3 separate regions of the Homo sapiens genome follow, and regions 2 and 3 are each linked to region 1. The links come from fine-mapping of genetic effects on gene expression. A gene starts in region 1. Each other region holds a variant in brackets. All regions are shown on one strand. Distances are between the middles of the regions.

Evidence for each region. PIP is the estimated chance that this variant, and not a neighbour inherited with it, causes the effect.
Region 2: its variant is fine-mapped to the expression of LPAR3 in whole blood (TOPMed, PIP 0.95).
Region 3: its variant is fine-mapped to the expression of LPAR3 in whole blood (INTERVAL, PIP 0.97).

Annotation. Positions count from the first base shown.
Region 1 is chr1:84,891,723-84,894,483 of GRCh38, reverse strand. LPAR3 (lysophosphatidic acid receptor 3) reads left to right here and starts at 1,278. Exons shown (of 3, transcript NM_012152.3): 1 at 1,278-1,468.
Region 2 is chr1:84,922,529-84,925,289 of GRCh38, reverse strand. No RefSeq gene overlaps it. Among named protein-coding and RNA genes, the nearest start is that of LPAR3, 31 kb to the right of the region's middle. The variant C/T (reference allele first, on the strand shown) is at 1,631.
Region 3 is chr1:84,864,828-84,867,588 of GRCh38, reverse strand. It overlaps LPAR3 (lysophosphatidic acid receptor 3), which reads left to right. Exons shown (of 3, transcript NM_012152.3): 2 at 1,451-2,204. The coding sequence starts at 1,469. Among named protein-coding and RNA genes, the nearest start is that of LPAR3, 27 kb to the left of the region's middle. The variant G/C (reference allele first, on the strand shown) is at 1,354.

The sequences.
Region 1 (2,761 bases):
TACAGGTGCGTGCCACCACGCCCGGCTTTTTGTATTTTTAGTAGAGACGGGTTTTCACCATGTTTGCCACCGAGCTTTTTTATCATATGCAAAGCTTCTGCTTGTAAAAGTAAACACATGATCTTTCTTTAGCCCTAGCTTCGCAAGTTGTACTTCTCTCTACACAGTTCAACTGCAAGACACCGCAATAATTTTCTGAACACTTAGATGAAACAATAATTTTCACATGCTGATGAAAACTTAGCTGTAGCCCCGGGGAGGTTTGAGGCACATTAGGCTATTATGGTCTATAGGATAAGACCCACGGAGTAAGGGACGTAACCTTATTAAAACATCCTCTGCAGAGAAAACAGAATCTCTTTGATGGTAGGGGACAGATTATCTAACAGGTTGTTTGCAAGGATGAGGTTCCTAGCTGGCACACAGAAGGGCGCAGTATTAATGGTGAATGCAAGATGAATGAATGAACGGATGGATGGATGGCAAAGGGTCACAGGAAGACATCTGGGCACACAACTCTCATTGCTTCCTAAGGGCCTGAAGTCTGAGTGGGAAGGACTTCACCTCACAGTATTTCCTTTTTGTAAGGTCACCAGGAAAGCACAACTTTGAACATTTCTGTGACTTCGTTATTGCTTTGCAGAATTCAGAGAGAACAATGCCTTCATGACATTTGTTTTACTTTGCATCTTTCTTCTTTACTAAAGGTGGGTCAGTGGAGGTTTTATATTTCAGCTTTGAAAAACAAAGTATCCAGGACTATTTGCCCCAGGAGGCCAAGAAACCTCTTACAAGAACCTTAAATATTGTTGGTTGCCTCTGGGGGCTGTCCGCACCCTCGGGTAGCTTTGGGGTTGAGGTTTCCAGCGTTAGGTCGGGCTTGGAGTAGAGCCTGCCTCCCACGGGGGTGGTGGGTGTGGGCTGCACTTCCCGCAGCCACTTCAAACAAATCTCTGAGGACAGAGGGGCAGAGGGACTGCGTTCTAATACGGAGCTCCGAGGTATGGCTCCGTGAGGCTTGTGGGTACTAGCGGTCCTTTAGTGGGCGCTTTTCCCTCTCGGGGCCGGCCGACCACCCACCTGGGGACGATCCCAGGCAGGAACGCGTCTGCAAGAGCGCTGCCCTCCCGCGGCTCGCACGGGCCCCTTTGAGCGCAGCTCGCGGCCTTGCAGGTTGGGGACGCTCTCCAGTGGGAACGTCGAACGCACCCGGCGGGGCGGGGCGGGGCAGGGAGGGGCCGCTGTCCCTAGGTCCCTCCCTCGCACCGCCAAACTTTCCTTTGGCTCTGGACGCGTCGCAGGGGTCGCTGGAGAGGAGGCGCTCCGCCCGCCCGCCGCGTCCTCCGCTGCTTCTCCGCGCCCGGCTGGAGCCCGGCGCCCGGTCGCCCCGTCGCGCTCGACCCCGAGGGCATGCGGCAGCCGCAGGGGCCCCCGCTCCCGGGCTCGGCGGCGCGGGTGAACGTGAGCGGTGAGTGAGGGTCCGGGCGCAGGGAGGGTACCCCGAGCCGCAGTCACCAGGGCGTGCGTCGTGGGGAGGCCGGGGCGCAGCGGCGCCTGCAGGGCTCTAGCCTGCGGCTTTTCGGGGTTGCCTGGCGTGCAAGCCTGGGCTCCAGACCCACTCCAAACCCCGGGACAAGACTCTCCCGGCGGGTGTATGGCACAACTTGCTCTTTTCCCACCTTTTTCCCCGCTAGGAGCAAAAAGCAATCTAGATGCAAAATCGGCGTTGCGTCCGCTGCTGAGGGCTGGCGGGCTGGGCGCAGAGGCCAGGAGAGCGCCGCACGGGTTGCGTCTGCCTTTGCACACGTGGTTCTTTCCAAACTCAGTCTCATTGCCATCGATGGTGATTAGGAAACTGGGGTTCTCTCGTGAAGCCTAGGGATATAACATTTTTCAGCCTCCAGTTACATCTGGTACTGTGCTGTGTCCGCTGGGGAACAGCTTGAACCATGTGCAGGCTTCTAGAGATTCGGGAACTAGTAACTAGCAACACTGTCGGGGTTGTTTGTTCAGGGTATGCCCCCTCACCACCACGAGACAAAAGTGCTTTTGTTCTGTAGCAGAGTTACTTTATTGCTTTCCCTCAACAAGTTGCAGCTACACAAAATTGCTTAGAAATTCCGCACGCATGTAATTTGAGGAGTGACTGTGAATATTGGAAACAATTTAGTCTTATTAAGGTAATCATTAAAATGGCCCTGAAAAGCATTTGTAGGTTAGTTTTTATTTATTTATTTATTTATTTATTTATTTATTTATTTATTTATTTTTGAGACACAGTCTCGCACTATCATCCGGGCTGGAGTGCAGTGGCGCGATCTCGGCTCACTGCAACCTCCGCCTCCCAGGTTCGAGCGATTCTCCTGCCTCAGCCTCCCTAGTAGCTGGGATTGCAGGCGCCCACCACCACGCTAGGCTAATTTTTTGTATTTTTAGTAGAGACGGGGTTCCACTGTGTTGGCCAGGCTGATCTCGAACGCTTGACCTCGTGATCCACCCTCCTCAGCATCCCAAAGTGCTGGGATTACAGGTGTGAGCCACTGCGCCCGGCTAGGTCAGTTTTTTAAACTGAGTAATTTCCACGAAATGTTTCCCCCGTAATTTGTTATTGTCATTACAACGCTTTTCTTCCTCCTTTTCCTCCGAAAGTAGCATTACCTGGTCTTGAGATGCCGTTTAGAAATAAAGGGCTTTCTCACGGTTCCAACTTAGTCTGTATCAGAGAATAAAGTAAATGTCAATTACAGACAGACAATCAATC
Region 2 (2,761 bases), 31 kb before region 1:
CCAGGGCTCTTCCTCTTTCTCCTTGGCCTCAGTCGCCCTCCCCACAAGCCCCTACCCAATTTTCCTTCTCATGTCACCTTCCCCCTCCTTGCTCTGACCCCATCTTCATATGCCTGCACCAACTATAGGCAGGGAAAATCATGCAGTTAATACCATTAAAGTATATAAGAGAGTAGATGACTCATGTCTACACACAGAGTACTTTGCTAAAATTATTTTAAACTTTCTTTTTTACAAGATATGTGAAGAGTTATGTTTGATTTTTAAACTAAGACACCATTAAACTGGTGGTTCTGGGGTCATTTGCCTGACCCAAGAATCAGATACGTAATTGGACCACTTGTTAACTTCTGAGTATATTGTCATATACTTAGTTTTGTCTCTGAAAAGAACTGCTATTTTTTTTCTTTCTCTCTTTTTTTTTTTTTTTAAACAGAGTCTTGCCCTGTTGCCAGGCTAGAGTGCAGTGTCATGATCTTGGCTCACTGCATCCTTTGCCCCCCAGGTTCAAGCGAGTCCCCTGCCTCAGCCTCCTGAGTAGCTGGGACTACAGACATGCACCGCCACACCTGGCTAATTTTTTGTATTTTTTTAGTAGAGATAGGGTTTCACCATATTGGCCAGGATGGTCTTGATCTCCTGACCTCGTGTACGCCCGCCTTGGCCTGCCAAAGTGTTGGGATTATAGGCGTGAGCCACCACGCCCAACCCAAGAATTGCTATTAACATGGTGAAACCCTGTATCTACTAAAAATACAAAAATTAGCTGGGTGTGGTGGCAGGCGCCTGTAGTCCCAGATACTCAGGAGGCTGAGGCAGGAGAATCGCTTGAATCCGGGAGGCGGAGGTTGCAGCGAGCCAAGATCCGGCCACTGCACTCTAGTCTGGGTGACAAAGTGAGACTCCATCTCAAAAAAAAAAAAAAAAAAAAGCTTTCATTTGTTCTGCAGCTGTGACTGCCATTTGAATAGAAGATTAATGATGGGTTTTCATGCTCATATTATTCTTCTATTGGCTTTCATGTTTTCTTTTATTTATTTTCCCTCCAGCTGGACAAAACAGTTTTAGAAAGAAAAATGTTTTTCAGGGTTAGCTCACATCTATAGAAACATTGTTTTCTCCCTTTTTAATAATGTTAAACAATTGTCACTTTATCAACTGTATTGTTATTTGGATTTTATTGAACAATGTTGTCTCATAATTCTGCTAATAGATGCATCTGGGATAAATCATTTTCTCTCTTATCATAGGCCTCCACTTAGAGGGTTCCCTGTGAAAGTTAGGAGACACATTCTTTCTGCCTGCTGGTTTCATTCTGGGATCTCCAACCCTTGAATTTAACTCCTTGGCTTGTGGTGACACAGTCAAAACCATATACAACATCTTAAAGCTTTTTCACTTGAGCTGGTAGGAGAGAGTGTGGGCATAAGAGCCATCTAGACAGACTTGAGTTAAAATTCCAGCTTAACCTAACTTTAAGGCCCTGAACAAGTTACTTTCTTCCTCTAAGTGATGATAAACCTCAACCAAGACTGGCACTTAAGTCACATAATTTATGCAGAGCCTGGTATTGAATTCATTCCTGAGCTGTTATTTCCCTTTGATTCTCTAACATGTTTGCAATAGTTTC[C/T]ATGGGACCATGGAATAATGCAGACACGACTTTGCTTCTGCAACCTGTCTGCCTCAGCTGTCCTCTTCCTACTGCTACCTGAGTCTCCTTGGACAGGTCATGCCATGCATAGATTTCCTCATCCATAAAATGGGATTATGAGGATTGAATGAGTCAAACGTAAAGTGCATAGAATAGGGCGTGACTCCTAAGTGCTCAATGACTATTAGCTCTTCAAAAAACATGTCTTACTAACATGGTCTACAAATGTACAAATCTGTTCATCTGGGCCAGCCAGGAAGATTTTTATTTTATAATGCACTCACCACACACTTCTGGTGGACTTTGTTCTAGTTAGAACTTTAAGTGTGCAAAAGTCCCCCATCCAGTCCTGTCCTGGAGGCAATGATCAGTTCAGCCCTAAGAAGCTCACACCTAGCCATAGAGGAGCAGCAAGGAGAAGCAGCCTAAATGGCTGGGGCACAGCTGTCAGTCCTGATGGAAGAGAAAAGGTCCAGGAGGTGCACAAGCTGTCACAAAGCCTCAGTCCTTCACCCTGGGTGAGACCCTCAGTCCTCTACTAGGACTACCCCCTTAACCAAACTTGTCAGAATGTATAAAATTCAGGCCCACTTCCTTCTCAACCCATTGCTGACTCAAAGTGGTGAATGCAAAAGAGTGAGAGAGGGTAGTTAGGAAAAGCTCTTCGTGCGATTCGAGGCACTGTCCCCCACTCCTGCTGAGGACCTACACTCCAACAATTGTAAAAAGGGTACACTGATCCAGTGGAAGACCACGCTTGGAATCATGGGTTTATGAAAAGCACAATAGCCCAGCCTTTTGATCTAGGGGTAGCCAGTCGCCCTCTTGTCCCTGTGGACCTTCATGTAAAAATGGCCCAGCACTGGCCGGGTGTGGTGGCTCACGCCTGTAATCCCAGCACTTTGGGAGGCCGAGGCGCATGGATCACAAGGTCAGGAGATCGAGACTATCCTGGCTAACACAGTGAAACCCCGTCTCTACTAAAAATACAAAAAAATTAGCCGGGCGTGGTGGTGGGCACCTGTAGTCCCAGCTACTCGGGAGGCTGAAGCAGGAGAATGGTGTGAACCCAGGAGGCGGAGCTTGCAGTGAGCCGAGATCGTGCCACTA
Region 3 (2,761 bases), 27 kb after region 1:
CATGTAAAAGTATCATTATACCATTAAAATATAAATTAAAAAAAAGACTGAGATACATTTCTATTTTGTACTACTTAATAGTTATCTGGTCTTCTTGATTCTGGTTGTGGTATTAGATTTCAGAATTTTCAGGAACTTTAAAATCTGGGGGCTTTTACTGAGCTTTTACTGTCACAGCTCCCAGAGGGCTGCTCAGTCCCTCTGCCGACTGAATCTCTGGTTCTCCAGGGAATAAGCTGCAGCCTCATTCTCAGTGAGGGAGCAGATGGTCATTCTTCCAAGAAGCTAGAACCCTGACCCTAAGCCCAATCTTCTTCCGTAGGACCGTTCATGGCTGTGGCCAGACCACTGTGAGGCAGAACACTTGGTTTTCCCCACCACGTGTAGACAGATGGGCATCCGTGGGGCTTCTGCCCAGCCCTTCCTTGGCCAAGATCCCTCGCTTTTGGGATTCAAGAGATCTTTTACTGAGAGGATTAGTGTCTTCCCTGTCTGCCTGATATCCCAGTTTGGGGTCTTCTTTCAGACAAGTGTCTGAAGAACATGCCCTCACTTAATAGATATGTTCTCACATCCACATTGAGTTGGAGATCTGCCCCAATTCCAAATCTCAGTCTTGCCTGTGGAAGCCCGATCCTCCTCCACCTGCCGTGTTGAGGAATGCTGGAAAATCCAGTGAGCAGGTTCACATTGGTACAGTTTGGGTTAGGAGACTATAAGGAAGAAGTGAACAAAAGGTAAGGAAGGGAGATATTGGGACCAAAGTCTCCATCCCTGCATCATATACCTAATATGTGAATATCAGAGTTGTTTGTTGAAACCAAAAGATGGCAAAAGGAGGATCAGGAGTGGAATCAGAAGTCATAGAAAACTGGTCTCTTGGGGTATCTGTTTGGTTATGTGAATGGTAATTCAACTCCTATTATCTTGGGAAGAATGTACCTGAAATTACCAACCTGCCGTTGATTAATGAACATATCCATAAATAACTAATGAACTGGGAGCCAGGAGGAGGCATTAACATAATGTGTTGTCATTGTGTTACCAGTGCAGAGTGGATATTGCAGGGCTCAGCACATTTGCCCTGTTGATGCCTCCATGAGAATTCATTCATTCATTCAGCCAGCCAGCCAACCTACCAATAATTACCCACCATGAGGCAGACAGAGCAACTGAATCCTAGGGTTGTAATGGTGAACAAAATAGAGATACACCCTCCTAACCTGAGCGGCCTAGCCTGGGAAACAAACAATTAAAATGTGCGCTAAATGCTGTGGTAGGAGGTCAGGGGCTATGTCCTGGACCAAAGGACATTTGCACTGAGACCTGACACTTCAGGTCTTCAACTCCCTT[G/C]ATGGGAGTTAGCCAGAACGGGCTTAGAAACAGCAATTGATGGCTTAGTGACTGATTTTACAAATGATATTTGTTTCTTCTTTAAATTTCTTTCTAGGATGTTCACTTCTCCACAATGAATGAGTGTCACTATGACAAGCACATGGACTTTTTTTATAATAGGAGCAACACTGATACTGTCGATGACTGGACAGGAACAAAGCTTGTGATTGTTTTGTGTGTTGGGACGTTTTTCTGCCTGTTTATTTTTTTTTCTAATTCTCTGGTCATCGCGGCAGTGATCAAAAACAGAAAATTTCATTTCCCCTTCTACTACCTGTTGGCTAATTTAGCTGCTGCCGATTTCTTCGCTGGAATTGCCTATGTATTCCTGATGTTTAACACAGGCCCAGTTTCAAAAACTTTGACTGTCAACCGCTGGTTTCTCCGTCAGGGGCTTCTGGACAGTAGCTTGACTGCTTCCCTCACCAACTTGCTGGTTATCGCCGTGGAGAGGCACATGTCAATCATGAGGATGCGGGTCCATAGCAACCTGACCAAAAAGAGGGTGACACTGCTCATTTTGCTTGTCTGGGCCATCGCCATTTTTATGGGGGCGGTCCCCACACTGGGCTGGAATTGCCTCTGCAACATCTCTGCCTGCTCTTCCCTGGCCCCCATTTACAGCAGGAGTTACCTTGTTTTCTGGACAGTGTCCAACCTCATGGCCTTCCTCATCATGGTTGTGGTGTACCTGCGGATCTACGTGTACGTCAAGAGGAAAACCAACGTCTTGTCTCCGCATACAAGTGGGTCCATCAGCCGCCGGAGGACACCCATGAAGCTAATGAAGACGGTGATGACTGTCTTAGGTAGGTAAGAGGACCCAAGCAAGCCATCATTCCCATTCATTCAGCAAATCTTTACGGAGCATCTGTGGTGTACCAGGCACTTACTAGGCAGTAAGAATGCAGCAGTGAACAAGAACGGACATAAATCGCCACCCACCTGGAGCTTACACTCTAATAAGGAAAGATAAAATAAGTATTCTAATGGGGGTAAACAAATTAAGTGAAATAAGATGAGTCTCCTGTGGAAAAATCAATCAGGGAAGGAAGGAAAAATAAAGCAGGGAAGGGAGCTGGAGAGTGCTAAGCTAAGCAGGTATCGTTTGCACTTTAAAAAAGTGTTGTGAGGGATGCCTGGAAGATGACTTTTGAGCAGAGGTGTGAAGGCAGTCAGGGAGTGAACCATACTGGTGTCTGGGGAAGGGTGTTCCAGGTGGGAGAAGCGGTAAGCACAGGAGCCCTGACCAGCCAGGAAGCCACTATGGCTGCATGGATCGAGCAGAGGGAGTAGGAGAAGATGAGGTCAGGGAGCTGGTGGGGTAGGGGATGGGCTACTCAGATAATGTAGGGTCATGTGGTTA